Linked DNA regions of Homo sapiens: regions 2 and 3 are each reported to be linked to region 1. The links are microRNA targets in miRTarBase. Many come from high-throughput screens and were not tested one by one. Region 1 holds a microRNA gene; each other region holds the end of a gene's coding sequence.

Region 1 (5,073 bases):
CAGGTGAGCAGCGGGAGAGGGAACCCCTGAGAGACCCTGAGATAGGAGGGCCCACATTTCCAATGGGGTGTGGACTGAGTGGCTCTTCCTGAATCCGTTTCCTCATTGGGAAGATGGGAGGGCTGTGCCTGTTCAGAGTGCTGTGGGCCTGCCATGAGGGGCACATAGCAAGCACTCCATAAATGCAGGCCCTGATGAGGAGGTGATGGGAAGGTCAAGGGGCTATGTGTGGGGCAACTGCCTCTAAAATGAGATCAGACCAGGCCCTCCCTGCCAGGGTGGTTGGGGCATGAAAAAAAACTCTTTGTCAGGTCTCAGAACAGGGTCCATGCTAGATGAGAGATCACCAAGGCCCCCTCCACTATGGACTCTGCCAGGTGAGGGGCCCAGCCTGAGAATCCAGCTGCTGGGGCTGCCCTTGACCTTCTCAGAACCTCAAACAGGGGGTGGGTGGCAAGAAGACAGAGGACAGGCCAGGTTCTGACCTCCAGGTGTGGAGGGGCCGCGTTAACCTCTTCATAGCCAGAGGGGAGCAGCTGTGTCCTTGCCCCCTGGGCTGGGCATCCTGTTCCCCTCCCCCAGCCCACTCCCAGCTGCAACCATGTCCAGTGGGAGGAAGGGGGACCAACTCCCGCCTCTGGCACCTGGTTTGTGCTCTGAGCTTCACTTTCCTCATCGCTAAATGGACAAGGCAGCAGAACTCACCCTCAGGAGACCCGCAACTCCTCTGCCACGTTAGCTGGGATTTTAGTACCTGGGTCTCTCCATTCCAGTTCCCCAAGTAGACCGCACTCCTGGCCACCAGCAGTGCTCAATAAAGATTTATTACATTAAAAATTCCATTGCCAAACCCTGAGGCACTCAGGGCTCTGACCGGTGCAGCCATGACCTCTGAACCCAGAACACATGGAAGCAGCAGCAGCTGAGTTGCCAACTCAAGTCTTGGCCTGCCTGGCTTTGCTGGCGAACTCCTGCACACCCTTCAAGGCCCTGTTCAAATGTCTCTGTCTTAGGCTGACGCAGCTGCTGCCCTTCTGTGGCCATACAGTGCTCCTTTTCACAGATGATGGCTCCTGCAGGGAGTGCCCCCAGTGCCCAGCACAGGGCCAGGCACACAGTGGTGCACGGGAACGTCTGCTGATGCCCACCCTAAGGCCAATCAAGGAGCCACGGGGCTGGGTCCTGGTCCTCACATCCTCTTCCGCATCTTGCCCTTCTTGGAGCGGGCACCCCGGCCGAAGGCGCCCTGCTGCAGCTCCTGGACGCGGCGGCGGTTGCGGGCAGAGAGCTGCTTGAGGCCACCACGCTGCAGGAAGTGCAGCTTCTGGGCCCGGCGCCGCTGCTTCAGGATCTGCTGCTTGGTCTTGAGTTCCGGGCGGACTCGGCCTGCAGGGGTGCCTGGGGCGTGGGGCCGGGATGCACCTGCTGGGACAGGGATTCAGGGAGCTCAGCTGTTGGGATCACTCCCAAGATCCCCTCCTCCCAGAAGCTTGCAGACTCCTCCCCTGCCCCTACTCCTGTTCTGTGCTTATTGCTGTGGCCCAGTGTCTGTACACAGTAGGTGGCTAATAAAGTTTTAGGCAGCCTCATGGAGTGGTCAATAACACGGGGCCAGAACCGCTGGGGTTCAAATCCCAGCTGTGACCTCTTGGACCGTGGGCAAGAAGTTAACGGCTCTGTGCCTCAGTTTCCCCATCTATGAATTATAAATCACAGCACCTCCCTCATGGGTGAAGAGTAAATGCATTTCCATGGTGTAAAGTGGTCAGAATTTCAAGGCCTGTCCCATAGTGGGAGCCTTTTGGGCATGACTGTTACTATTAAAAATTCTCCAACCAAGGAGTGTATGTCTCCACAGCACACCTACGGCACGCCAGGCTCTGAGGCCCCCCATAGTAACCGATACAGACCTCAGCCTCTGTCTCCATGGACACCATGCTCTAGGCTTGTTAGATGAAAAAAGAGTGTAGATGAACCTTCCTTTAGGTGGGAGAGGAATCAAAGAAGGCCAGAGAGGGAGAGGGACTTATCTGAGATCACACAGCAAAGCAGCAGCAGCAGCAGAGGTCAGCGACCCTGCCCCAGCCCCACAGGTGGGCATCAGGTAGTCCATTCTTCTAGTTCTCCGGGAGGCAAGCACCACCCTCCCTGGCTCCCACTAAGCCCTGTGTCCTCCTCCTCCTCTTCCCCATTCATAACAGCAGCCTCCCCAGGGCTCCTAGAGGGATGACCATTAAGGTGGTCCCAGCTGTCTCCAATGGAGCCAGGGTGCCTCGCAGGACCTATCACCTCCAATGAGGACAGCAAAGGAAGAACAGCTGCTTTTTCCCAAAGCCCACAGGTCGCCCCCGTCTCCCCAGCCCCTGCACGCCCACTGCACGGCAATGCTCGCAGCAGAAGCTGCTGTTTCACCTAGGTAAAAACAGGCTGAGAAGTGAGGTGTGGGTGGTCCCCACCCAGCCATGCTGACAAGGAGACACTCCCACAGATGGGAGAGCTGGAGAGGGAGGAGCCACAGAGAACAGGCCCAGGCAAATGCACGCAGGCTCACAGAGACACCCAGGGGAGGCAGTGACCAGCCCCAGGAGGTGGAGGGACACAAGCAGGGGCTAAGGCCATCTGAGAGAGACCCAAGACATGGTCCCAAACTCCCCTCTCCCCAGGGAAGACTCCAGGTGGGAGCCTTGGGCAGCTGGGTGACCCAGGTTCAGTCATAGCCCTCATAAGGCACCTGTTTCCTGGCCTGTAAAATGGGTATTCGCAGTCACCTTGCCTCCCAGGTCATGTGTGGCCTTCCAGGACAGAGCCTGCCTGCACCCAGCAAGCGGGAGCCCCTCCCTGATAACAGCCCTTAAGCACAGGCTCTGGCAGACAGAGCCGGCTTCAAATCCACCTTAGCTTGTTACTGGCTGAGGGACCCAGGCCAGATCAAAGAGGTCCAAGTCCTCAGATGACCAAATGTACCACTTGCCAACCCACATTTCAAGGAAGTATCTTCCTCAACATCCCCTGTGATCGCCTCCTCCCAGAACCAAAGCTGCTTCTGACTGCGTCTTTGGTGACATGAACTTCCCCACAGCATTGCTAAAAAGAACGTCACTCCTAAGGATGCCACAGGGAATCAATTCATGCTCACTGTCAGGTCGAACCACATGCAAATGCCATTTTTGCAGGTGAAAATGGCCTGCATTTGCACAAGGTTCCACCTCCCGGGTTCTCTAGGATTTTACACAATCGGCTTAATTAGGTGAACAGGGCATCTACCAGAAGTTATCCCTGTAGCTTCATCTGTGAAGTGGAAGGGGGTCGGGGACAAGGCACCTGAGGGGCATGGCACTTCCCAGCGCCTGTCAGGCGGTGCTCGTGACCATCAGAGGCCGGGACAGTAGGAAGGGGGAAACTGTGGGTGTGGGGGTTGGGTGGGGGGGATCATGGAGGGACCCAGGGTTTTGGCAGCATACCCCAACACACCCAGCTCTGGGGCTCTGCAGTAGCCCCTGCACCTGTGCCTCAGCGTTACCCTAATCTGACCACAACTGCTCTGCCTACCTGTGCACCCACACTCCCCACCCTGGCTCTCACCTTGGCCACGGTCTCGCTTCCCACCTCTTCGCTCTGGGCCTCGCCGGTCAGATGCCCCTTCTTCGTCCGAGTCACGATCATCAATTTTCTGTTTCTGTTTCCACTTCTGATAGCTGGGAAACCTCGTTAAGGAAGCTGCGTGAAGCCCCTGGGATGGGAGAAGGCTCCTCCCCACACTGCCCCAGCAGACAGAGTTCCGTTATCCCAGCCGCAGCTGAAGCTGCTCGGCCCCGCCCCCAGCACACAGGTCCCACTTATTGGAGATGCTGTTGCTGAAGCTGCTCGGCCCCGCCCCCAGCACCAGGTCCCACTTATTGGAGATGCCGCTGCTGAAGCTGCTGGGCCCGCCCCCAGCACAGGCCCCACTTACTGGAGATGCTGCTGCTGAAGCTGCTGGGCCCCGCCCCCAGCACAGGTCCCACTAGTTCGAGATGCTGCTGCTGAAGCTGCTCGGCCCCGCCCCCAGCACCAGGTCCCATCTATTGGAGATGCGGCTGCTTAAGCCGCTCAGCCCCGCCCCCTCCTCCCCGCCCCCGCCCCCGCCCCCAGGTTCCACTTAATTGAAGCTGCTCCTGCTGAAGCTCCTCGGCCCCGCCCCTCCCCAGCCACGCCCCTCAGGATACAGGTCTCGCTTGTAGGAGCTGCTGATGTAGCGGCCGCTCTCTGTCTTAATCTTCTTCTTGTCTTCCTGTCCTGACTGTCCCACAAACCGCTTCTTCTTACGGTCCCTGCAGGAGAGGGAGTTGGGACGGCTGCCGTGGAGGGAAACCCTTGGAGTGCCGGCTGCCGCTTGGGGCCTGTCTCCTCACCCGACCCTCTTGTCAGGTTGTTGGAGCATTAAAGGAAAGCAGTGCAGCCATGTCTGGCATGCAGTTGGCGCTCAATAAAGGCTTCTTCCCTATCCCTCCTCACCTCTCCCTGCAGTCCAGGTCTCAAAAGGGAGTGCGGAGGTCAGAGGACTGCCGCCAGCACTGGGGCCTGGCTCAGGGACAAGGGCCTCCTGGAGGGTTTCCAATCCCCTCCCCCTACCCAGCTGTGACCCTGGGTTGAGTCACATACACTCTCCAGACGCTAGAGTCCTGAACGAATGGGTCCTGAGCCCTGTCTAGAAAGACTTGCCAGCAAAAAGAATAGACGGGGTCAAGATCTCTGTGGTGTGTGATCAAATCAAGGGGACAGCACAGCCAGGGGCCATCACACCTGCTGTGAGTGGTCACATGGGGGACAGCCAGGCCATAATCTGGGCTGTGCAGGATCAGATGGGAGTGAGGACTTCAGGGAGCTCACCCTGCCTGCTGGCATGGAGGGCAGCTCACTCGATCACTCACCCTGGGCCTGGAGGGGTGGCTCACTCGCTCACTCACCCCAGGGAATGGAGGGGCGGCTCACTCGCTCACTCACTTCAGGGAATGGAGGTAGGGGAGGCTCACTCGCTCACTCACCCCAGGCATGGAGGGGCAGCTCACTCTCTCACTCACCCTGGGCCTGGAG
Region 2 (5,073 bases), not on the chromosome of region 1:
GATTTAAGGCACAAGAAAAAACACTGAAGCAAAAGACAAAACAGGCTTTCTCGAAAATTCTCCTAAGAATGACTACAATCATTCCCTCTTTCCATATGTCATTGCATTCGTGACAATAAATGAAACAAACTATATCGTTCAAGCTGATGAAACTACAGAGAATTCATCTGGTCCCATTCTTAGAGTAAAGCTGAAGTCGTTGTTGGCGTTAAGTCAACAGAGCTCCACTGGTTACACCTCCTCATTTTATAAATGCCTTATGGTAATCCAGGCATTTTTAAAAACTGTCCTAACTCCCCATCTCCTACAGGATGTTATGCCTCTTCAAAAAACAGTATCTTTTTCCTTATCAACATAAGGGAACACTCTTGTATTCCCCATTCATGTCACTCAAACTTCATGGGAGGAAATATACAAATTTCATGTAGGGAGAACAAAAATCAGTCCCATCTAAATGTCCCGATATGTTTTAAAGAGGAAAAATCTTGTGGTATTTACAAAAATGATATTTAATGACAAAGAACTGTATGTGTTCATCATCTTAGAGTAACAGACTAACCTTTTAAAAATGGTTTCATTCCTGAAGAATGCCAAAATGCTTCCGCACTGAACCTGAACATTATATAAACTAATGGACCAATAAGTCAGTCTTTCATTCTATTTGTGATACCCCGGCTAACTGGTATGAAAAAGAGTCCTGACACATCTATGTAAATCACACATGCACACACATGGTCACAAACAGTAATAACAGAATCTGTATTGGTATAAAAGAATCTACACCTGAAATGTATCGTGCTTAAGGTTGATGGAAAAGAACCATGCTCTGTAGTTACTTCAGGAAAACAAGATATGTCTTGGTTTCTGTTTTGGTTTATGTGATATATCACATTTTAAAAACCGGATTTGTTTCAACACCTCCCTAGAATACATTTTTCATTGACATGCTGGTTTCTTATTTGGAGAAGAATTTTAAATCTCTTAAAGTCTTAGGAAATCAAGATTTAAAGCACCATAATATATATCATTTCTTAGCATTTCCTCTCACGTTTTAACTCATTGCTTCTCTCAACTTCACCCAAAAGAGCCTTGTTTTATTAATAACGCTGTGCCTCAGGAGGCCTTTTTAATGTTTTAAAGTGTGTGAGTGCATCTGTATAAGTATTTGATACATATCTATGTCTACATGCTATATTTCTCTTCAGATTGGCCACAGTTTCCATGTGATGCTTTCTGTTGATGAATTAATCTACTTTTTAAACTTTGCTTTTGCAAGGTTTGTTGAACAAAAAATGAAAGAAAGCTTCCTGTTGTCTTGCGGCCACTAATTTAAATGCACAGATTTTTTTCTAGGTGAATGAACTTTATCCTTTGTGTATAAGGTAGGTCATTCAATGACAATGTTTAGGATGTTAGTTTATGAGCTATAAATTGGAAGAGTTGGCAGGAATAATACCATATTAATATGGGTTCACAACTGTGAGCCTAGAGATATCTCACTCTGAACCACGTATGTATGGGATAGTTCTGTCTTCACACACCACATAGCAAGAATTCACACCTTTACAATAAAACAGGAGGCATGATAGCATCACACTTTTCCTATGAGTGTGGCAACCTAACATTCCCCCAAAAACATATAGGAAAAATGTCTTAAAAAAATAAAGTCATCCTAAGGTCATAGAGAAGAATAAGAAGTAAAAAGTTATTTTATGGTCATAGTATCGTATTTTATAAGTCAATGGGCACTCAATAGCTATTTTAACAGAAGTTAACCCAGGTAAAACACCCTTAGCCTCAAAATGACTTTTGTCAAAATCTTCTTTATTTGCTCTGTAAAACTCTTAATGCCCCAATTTTACTAACAAACCATTTGTTTACAAGTGTCTTAAAATCCAGATAAGTTTAACAAAGTGGTTTCATAAAACTATAAAAACTATGTATATAGCATCACAAAGAATTAACATATTAAAGCATTATATTGGTTATCACATAAAAGCATCATAAGTTTTTCGTAGCACTCTCTCTAGAAAACAGTACATGAAGCCAAACCAAGATCTTGTCTGTCCACTCACATAAAAGGTCCCAGGTCTGTCAATGAGTTTCATTTAATTTGGAGAGCCAGTCTGCCACGGAGACCACCATTCTCCACAGAGAAAACTGCCACATTTGTGAGGTGAATGAACTTTCAGCATTTATGTTAAAGTCATCTCTGAAGTGACATCCACAATTTTAATTCCAAGTGAATGGTTTTTTCCTTGGCTAGGCACCTTTTTTTAGTAACATGTTTGCAAAGTGTCTTAAAGTGATAAGTCGTTATTCATCCCCTCAAAGTAGGTCACAATTGTATCTTGTCAACAAGTGGTAAAATATGCACACACAAGGGATGAATATGTCCCCATTTTTAAGTTTTTTTGGTACAGTTATTGTGGCTTATTACCCCCTTGAAGTATATTTAAAATACCAAACGTTATTATTCATGTAAAATATCAATGTTGTGCTTCATTAAAATGACGCTTAAGGTGTTTCCTAAAACCTAAGTTTCATAATATAATGAATAAAAGGACAGGAAAAAAAGAAATATTTTTATTAGAGGAGGAAAAGAGAAAGAGAAACTCTCCATTGAAGAAACAAAAGAGAATCACCTTGATAATTAGTTATAATTTCTTACATTTAATCAGTTATTTTTAGAAACTATTTGAAATCATTAACTCCAGACCCAGTAATAGTGCACAAATTTAATATTAAAAGACCAACTGGGACCGGGTGCTGTGGCTCACACCTGTAATCCCAGCATTTTGGGATGCAAAGGCGGGCGGATCACCTGAGGTCAGGAGTTTGAGACCAGCCTGGCCAACATGGTGAAACATCTGTCTCTACAAAAAATACAAAAATTAGCCAGGTGTGGTGGCAGATGCCTGTAATCCCAGCTACTCGGGAGGCTCAGGTGCTTGAACCCAGGAGGCAGAGGTTGCAGTAAGCCAAGATCATGCCACTGCACCCAGCCTGGGCGACAAGAGCAAGACTTCATCTCAAAAAATAATAATAATAATAATAATAATAATAATAAAGATCAATTGGTCTATTTGCCTACCAACCCAAGATTGTTGCTTATAGCCCACAGTGCTTTATATCATCCCATTTGAAAAAGTAACGCTAGTAGAAAGCACAATTTAGATTTTACACCAGAAACATAGTACCCTGTTTCTAATTCATGCTCCCAGATCACTATATCCTTGTGTCATTATCTCTTCCAAATACTGTTACATTATCTCTCTGTTTACACTTCTGATCTGTGGAAAATACCAAAATCATATTAAGAAAAAACACATCTATTTTCTATAGTATTATTAAGTGCTTTATATAACTGCCAACTCTTTATTCCAAATGAAACCTGGAAGAGAAAAAATGTTTTAAACTTGTAATTGTGAATTTTAGAAAAGCACTAGAAGTTAAAATTTCAAGCTTACAACTTCCACATAATTAAAAATATATCCTTTAAGAAAAATATATTATTTCTATATTTATGGAAGAACATCTCTTAAGAATTCATAAAAAGGACGAAATTATGTTTTAATTATGTTTTTATGTTTTCCCCATACATACCTCACAAGGCAACTATAAATCAATTTAGTCAGTCCATGAAGTTGTGATTCAGGAATTGGTTTCATTATAATAACTTCTAAAGTTTTACAATTTCTATCAGATGCCTTCTAATTACAAAGAAATCTGCTTGAAATTCTAACTATATCATGCTAGGAAAAATAAATATTTGCTGATATCCCTAGGGCAAAAACATAGTAAAACAGTCTTAATAGAAATAAGGCAAAAAACAAGTTAAATTGAGCAGTCACAAACTCTTCATATAGTCTACTTTTTTCTTCCTAATACACTTTTATTTTTGTTGAAAACTATTTGAAAATAATTTAATCTTTGGAATAGCCAATATCAGGTTCTCTAATAACATAAGGGAGAAGAGAGAGATACTATTGGTAAAGATAGACTGGATCAGTGAAAATCCACAGGATTTCCATTATCTGCAAACCATACATCCAGGCTTTATAATATAACTGGGTGCTCCTTTACAATTCCTTCCTGAGTGTGCGCCATTGGAGCCACAAGCATGCAAGCCTGAAAGCATTTAAGTGACGGCATGGCGATACTAGTCACTAACACTCTGAACCAATGCTTCCTCCCACCAAAATGAACGCCTTGCTCTGTCTTTGTAGTTCAAAGGTGGATTTTGGCTAAGGAGGAAGAAAGAAAGGCATGTTAACAAGTCATGGACACATTTTGATCTACTGCCATCTCCAAATTATGTCTGAAAGTAAATCGCAATCTGTTCATTCAAGAGTTTATTGCTTTAAGAAAATAGTACATGCTTTCCTATTACCAGTTCTTTAAAATTCTACGCCTTCCTAGAGAAAAATTATTTAGAATAAACTGCCTTCTAAACTTATAATAAAGCGTACAATAAGAGTGATCCTATTTTTCATCCTTTACAAGTGGCAATTGTCTTCCAGTGCAAATTCTCCTCTGTCCGTCTTATTTAATATTTCTATATGACTTTTAAAACACATGCAATAAAAGTAAGTAATTATCCTTTAGTAGCCATTTAAAGTTATCTGGTCTTTCCACTAGGCTTCTAATGTTATAATTCGTAGGTAGTATTCGACCATAGTGTCACATTATATTCAGCAATAACTATGTGCTTATCTTTCAAGTATGATAACCCTTCATTTTTCTTGCGATCCATATACTCTCTTTTTAAAAATGTTCTAAGCCACGGCAGCATAGTCCTTGTTTTGTTGGTTGTTTTCATTTTCTTCTGGACTGGTAATTTTTACTTCTGGCCTTGGTGGTCTTTGAGGGTCTACATCAGCCTAGAAGAAAATAGATCAAAACAAAGGTATTCAGCTGTTTGGTTCACAAAGGTAATGACATTTATAAAGAAAAAATTACTCAAGATTCTATTTAATTATATAAATATTTAACTAAAAAGAGTTCCTGGGGTTCCCTTTGTTTTTTTGTCTATCATTACCCAGTGGACATACTGTTTTCTCAACACTTGTA
Region 3 (5,073 bases), not on the chromosome of region 1:
GACCCATGTGTCCAGACTCCCAGGCCCCCTTTCCATTCTTTTGGAGGTACCTGATTTTTCTCTCAAGGTAGCCAGGAGCCTGGGTTCTAATCAGGTCCCTGCTACCATCTTGCTCTTGCTATAGGGGAAGTCACATACCCTCTCTAGGCTTCAGTTTCTTACCAATAAAATGGGTAATAATTTCTGTCCTGATGACTTTTGGGGGCCAAAGAAGTAAACTTACTGGACAAACTGAAACCAACCCTGGGCCTCCAACCAGCCTTGGGCCAAGGGGAAGTACTCGTATAGACAGCCCAGCTCCTGGCCCACAATCACCCAGTACAGCCACAGGACCTATCCTTCTTCCTTCTTCCTGCACAGCGCAACCACAGCAAGCTCAGAGCAGAGGGTCAAAGGCCTCGTCTGGAGTCCTGAGTCAGGTCCAGGGCATGGGACAGGCGCCTCAGTCTGGGTGGGGGATAAAGGCAGCTAGAGACTAGGTCAGGCCAAGACTGGCTGCTGTCGGGGGAGGGGGCGCCTGGCAGGCGCTGGGCAGGCTGGGGTTGGGGGAGGCCTTTGGCGGCCTCAGAGAACAAAGAGGCCGGGGTTGCCAGGATATTCTGTGGAGTTGAAGCCGGTGGTGATGGGGCTGGGAGAGGGGCCGCAGCGGCCGTGGGAACTGCGCCTGCTGCCCCCACGCCAGCTCCCCCATCCAGACTGGGCCTCAGGGCCATGCGAGGGCACAGGCTGCAGGTGAGAGGGGCTGTCAGATCCCCCACTCTCTCCCTAGAGAGGCTTTCAGGGCGGAGACCCAGGAAGTGCTGGAGGCAGACACACAAGGCAATAGTGTCAGCAACACTGAGAGGATCACAGGTGCACACTGACACAAAGCCATGACCACACACCCAGGGTTATGCAGGCAGCATCACAGGGTCACACTATAGTCACACGGAGACATCACACACACACAATCCCTGGTCAGTCCCAGCCCACATCCATGATGGCCACACAGACACAAAGTCACACACTTATTGAACCACCCAGTTTTGCCACAGGGTCACGCAATGCCACGTGTGTTGTAAACCCAAAGTGACACACTCACATAGAATCACTCAATGTCACACACTCACACAGAATCACCCAAAGTCACACATTCAGTTGTACAAGCCGGTATCACACTGGGTCTGTTACAGAACTGTACAATGTCACAAGAGTACACACGCAATGTCACAGAACATTCCAAAGTGTGGCCACTGACATACACTAACCCATTCACATCTCAGTCTCCAATAAACTGTCACAAACCCATTTGCATATCACACCCGATGTCACACATAGCCACATTACTGCACAAAGCCTCACACAATTGTCAGGCCCTTAAAGCATCACTCACACACACACACACACACACACACACACACACACGTCCACGCAGGGGCTACCTGGAGGCTGGACTTCTCTCCAGCCCAGTGTGTGCACCCAGCCTCTCAAACCCCCACCGTTCTGTGTCTAGAGCTGGCTCTAAATGCCAGATCACCCAGGTCAGGGTACAGGGTACCTGGAGGAAAGGCTCCTGGGTCACCAGGAAGTCAGTTTCCCAACTGTAGCAGAGGAGAGGTGAGGGCACCTGAGGGGAGGGGAGCTGGGTACACAACCCTGCCAGGGAGCCTGCCTCTAAGGAAGTCTCCGTCAGCTGGGGAACAGCAGGGGTGAGCCTGCAACAGACAGAGTACAAGATACAGAGATGGAGAGACAGGAGGGGCAGAGACCCAGAGACACGGAGAGGCTTAGAGATCAGGAAAGATGGAGACCCAAAGACACAGGAGCGTCAGGGACCGAAAGAGACCTTCAGGACATGCAGAGAGTGAGCCAGAGAGACAGAAAGCTGGTGCAGGCTGGGGTCGGGCTGCATCCAGGTAGGGGAAGGGCCAGAGGCTGGGTCACTCTACGGAGGTGGGAAGTGGGAGGTGGGAGGTGGGGGTGGCCAGGGCTTCAGGGAGGACACACAGCCAGGCAGAAGGTGAGGGACATCTTGGTGAGATTTAGGTGAATAATAGTTTAAAAATAGCAACACCAGCTGCCATTGACAGAGCTTGCAAGTCAGGCCCTTCCCAAGTGTGATCGCATTTCATCCTCAGGCAACTTTATGGGGGAAACAATTATTGTCCCGTTTCCCAGATGAGGTAACTGAGTCCTCAGCATGTTTTCAGCCAGCCTCACAGCTGTCCCCACCCCTGGCCTCCAAACAGAGGGGCTGGCTTACCATTTCCACAAAGCAGTGTGAAGCTGGAACAGGTGAGGAGCTCTGAGTTTCGGCCGTGTGCTGGGGAGTGGGCTCAGGAGACACGCTGGGCTGTGGGTTGGCACACTGAAAGGTACAGGCCGGCTGAGTCACAGCACCCCCTCTGGGCTGGCAACAGAGCCGTCCACCCCACACCTGTAGGTGTGCCAACGAGGGCCGGCTGAGGCCATCTGCAGCCTGTGTGCTGCCAGCAGCGGGCGGAGGCAGGAAGGGGCCTCCTGCCCGGTGCCCCCTGCTGGCCAGGCTCCCCCCACTCCCCACAGGAGGACCCTCCCCACCCTCCTCGAGGTTCTGGAGGTGCCGCTGTTTGCCTTGTGCTGGGGGTGAGGGTGCCCCCCAGCTGCAACACCTCCCCCTACTCCCTGCTGGACACCCCCCTTCGGCAGAGCCGCCTGGAGAGATCACAGGCAGCCACATGAAAGGGAATTTTTCCCAGGCAGAGCTGAAGTTGAAAGCTGCCTCCCACCGCCCCTGCCTGCCCCCGCTGTGCCAGGCCAGGCTGCTGAGGCCCTGGCGCTCGAAGGGAGCTTGTGACACCTGGGAAGGGGTTGGGGGTCAGCGCCACCCCCACCCAACATGGCTGCTTTCTCCTCTCAGGACAATGGCAGAGATAGCCCATCTCCCCCACCTCACTGCCCACTCAGCCTCAGAAATCGCTCCAGCTCTCACCCACCTGAAGCCAGTGCCCAACACTGTCAGGAAGTCCTTCCTGAAGTCTAGCCTCCATCTCAGCCAGGCTCAAAGCAGCTGGGTGAGAAGAACGCTCCCCCAGTGGATGGCTAAGCCTCCTCCTTCAGGTTGGCCTCTGTGATGTACAGGGAGGGGCATGCCACTGCCACCCCTTCCTGTTCAGGCTGCCCTGGCCCAGACCATGTGGCTGTGTGGTGACTTCCCCAGACATTTGACCTCTGAGGTCCCCAGCAGCCTTGTACCAACAAACCCTCTGAGAGTGGGGACAGTCAAAGCCAAGGACACCCCCGTAACTCAGCCTAGCAGCCCTCAGGCCTAAAGAGGAATAGGCGTGTGTGTACAGCCAGGTCCCCACGAAGCCGAGCTGAAACTATTCCCTGGAGAATGACATTGGTGGCTGCGGGAGCACTAGATCCCTGCCAGGTAAGAAAGAAAGAAAGAAGACCCTGAACAGGCAGCTCAGCCTTACCCCCACCTGCCTCGTGGTGCTGGTTGCTTTACTCATCAGGCCCTGATGAACTTAGGTGAGTGAACAGAGGTGGCCCCAAGTGAGTGAAGGTCCCTGGAGGTCCAGGTTCTGAGGCATGGGGTGCAACCAGGCAGTGACTTCCAGATTAAGAGCCTTTCCCTCCTGTCTGCTGGGCTGGTTGCTCCTGCTCTCCCCCATTCTGGATCCAGAGGCCTCTCTTCCCCAAGAAATTCCCATTCTAAATGTCCCTGGGCCATCCTTCTTCCTCCTCCAGGTGGTCCCAGACAATCCCTGCTCAGGAACGGCCCCCAAGTCAGCCCCCCAAAACCGGAGAGCAAGAAGCCAGCGGTGCTTCGTGACACAAACATGCATTCGTTTTATTCACAAAACAGCCTGGTTTCCTAAAACAATACAAACAGCATGTTCATCAGCAGGAAGCTGGCCGTGGGCAGGGGGGCCCAGGCCGCAGGGGGCCCCCTGGGGACCCACCCCCACCAGCAGGGGACCACGCAAAGAAGCCCTTTCTTCTGTTGCCATTAGCAAGGCCAGAAAAAAAGGACTTATTTTCTCTAAGAAAAGTAGCCAGGATTGGAAATATCGAGATGGGGCTCCCCAGATCGCAATGGATAAACGAACAGAACTTTCATTTTTTTTTCCAAAATCACTGTTGGGGTGGGGGATCCCAGTCTCGGGACTGTGGGTGCAGCTCAGCTGGCCTGGTGCTCCCTCCCCTTCTGTGAGCTCCCTGCTGGCAGCTCTGCACGCGTGGATGGATACAGAGCGGCTTCTACACGGCGCCATCAACATTCTCTTTATGAACGTGAGTGGATTCTCCAGGCAAACTATGCACTATTTCATGGTCGGAAAGAATCAAAGGAAGTTTAAATGAGGGTGGAGTTAAACTGTGCTAAATTACAGTAGTGCTTATTAGTAACTAGATTTCAAAAGGTTACAGAAAATTTACATTCTCTACACAAAAACTGCATCTCCTGCACAGACAACATCGACATCGACACAGGAAGGAAACTGATTGTCCATTCTTTGCCCAGGAAGTCTCGGTACTTTATAGATTCGTCTTTACCTCTTTTTTGTTGTTGTTCTTCCGAAAAAGCAGTTTAAATTTTTTTCTTTTTCTTTTTATGCTAGGGACGTGGAGATGTTAAAACGACAACAAAAAATATATATATAAAAACAGGAATGAAATCTGTGAGAGAATATTTTTGGTTCTAAAGACGGGTGCATCCGTTTGTCTTCGCCCGAATCCCTTGCTGGAGACCACACGAGCAGTGACATTGCACGGAGAGGGCAGCTTTGGGTTCCGCCGCCGTCACTGAAACCACCGGAAGGCGGCTCCCGTCGGAAGCATCACCTTCTGGCGGGGGCGGGAGACAAAAACAAGGAGAGAGTTCAGTCAGGGTCCGGGTAGGCCTGGAGCAAAGACGTTCCCCCATGGATGGCCTCATGGCGGAGGGACAGGCATGGAGGAAGAGCAGCCACCCCTCGGAGCTCCTGCCACCCCAGCCAGGCCAAAGGAGGCGCTTGACCTGCTGGGCTGCTGGAAGGCCCCGAGGACTCTGAGGCCTCCTGAGCCACTGTGCCCAGGAACCCTCCTTCCAGAGAAGAAGTCCCTTCC

The links. Region 1 holds the annotated microRNA hsa-miR-7106-3p (AGCUCCCUGAAUCCCUGUCCCAG, at 1,426-1,448, opposite strand). A microRNA usually pairs through its seed, bases 2 to 8, with sites in the 3' UTR of a target mRNA and lowers its output. Matches are read on the target gene's strand: a 7mer-m8 pairs with bases 2 to 8, a 7mer-A1 pairs with bases 2 to 7 and ends in A, and an 8mer does both.
Region 2: miRTarBase lists DCDC2 as a target of hsa-miR-7106-3p. Seed matches in the 3' UTR shown: 7mer-A1 at 3,216-3,222.
Region 3: miRTarBase lists CXXC5 as a target of hsa-miR-7106-3p. Seed matches in the 3' UTR shown: 7mer-m8 at 4,181-4,187 and 8mer at 4,161-4,168.

The regions. Positions count from the first base shown.
Region 1 is chr12:113,157,688-113,162,760 of GRCh38, forward strand. It overlaps MIR7106 (microRNA 7106), which reads right to left and starts at 1,490; the gene lies at 1,426-1,490. It overlaps CFAP73 (cilia and flagella associated protein 73), which reads left to right. Exons shown (of 8, transcript NM_001144872.3): 7 at 1-3; 8 at 1,014-1,589. It overlaps DDX54 (DEAD-box helicase 54), which reads right to left. Exons shown (of 20, transcript NM_024072.4): 18 at 4,206-4,310; 19 at 3,583-3,695; 20 at 1-1,422. The coding sequence ends at 1,190.
Region 2 is chr6:24,169,952-24,175,024 of GRCh38, forward strand. It overlaps DCDC2 (doublecortin domain containing 2), which reads right to left. Exons shown (of 10, transcript NM_016356.5): 10 at 1,804-4,883. The coding sequence ends at 4,779. Among named protein-coding and RNA genes, the nearest start is that of NRSN1, 46 kb to the left of the region's middle.
Region 3 is chr5:139,682,602-139,687,674 of GRCh38, reverse strand. It overlaps CXXC5 (CXXC finger protein 5), which reads right to left. Exons shown (of 3, transcript NM_016463.9): 3 at 3,793-4,812. The coding sequence ends at 4,768. Among named protein-coding and RNA genes, the nearest start is that of CXXC5-AS1, 35 kb to the right of the region's middle. RefSeq lists an enhancer at 2,077-2,731.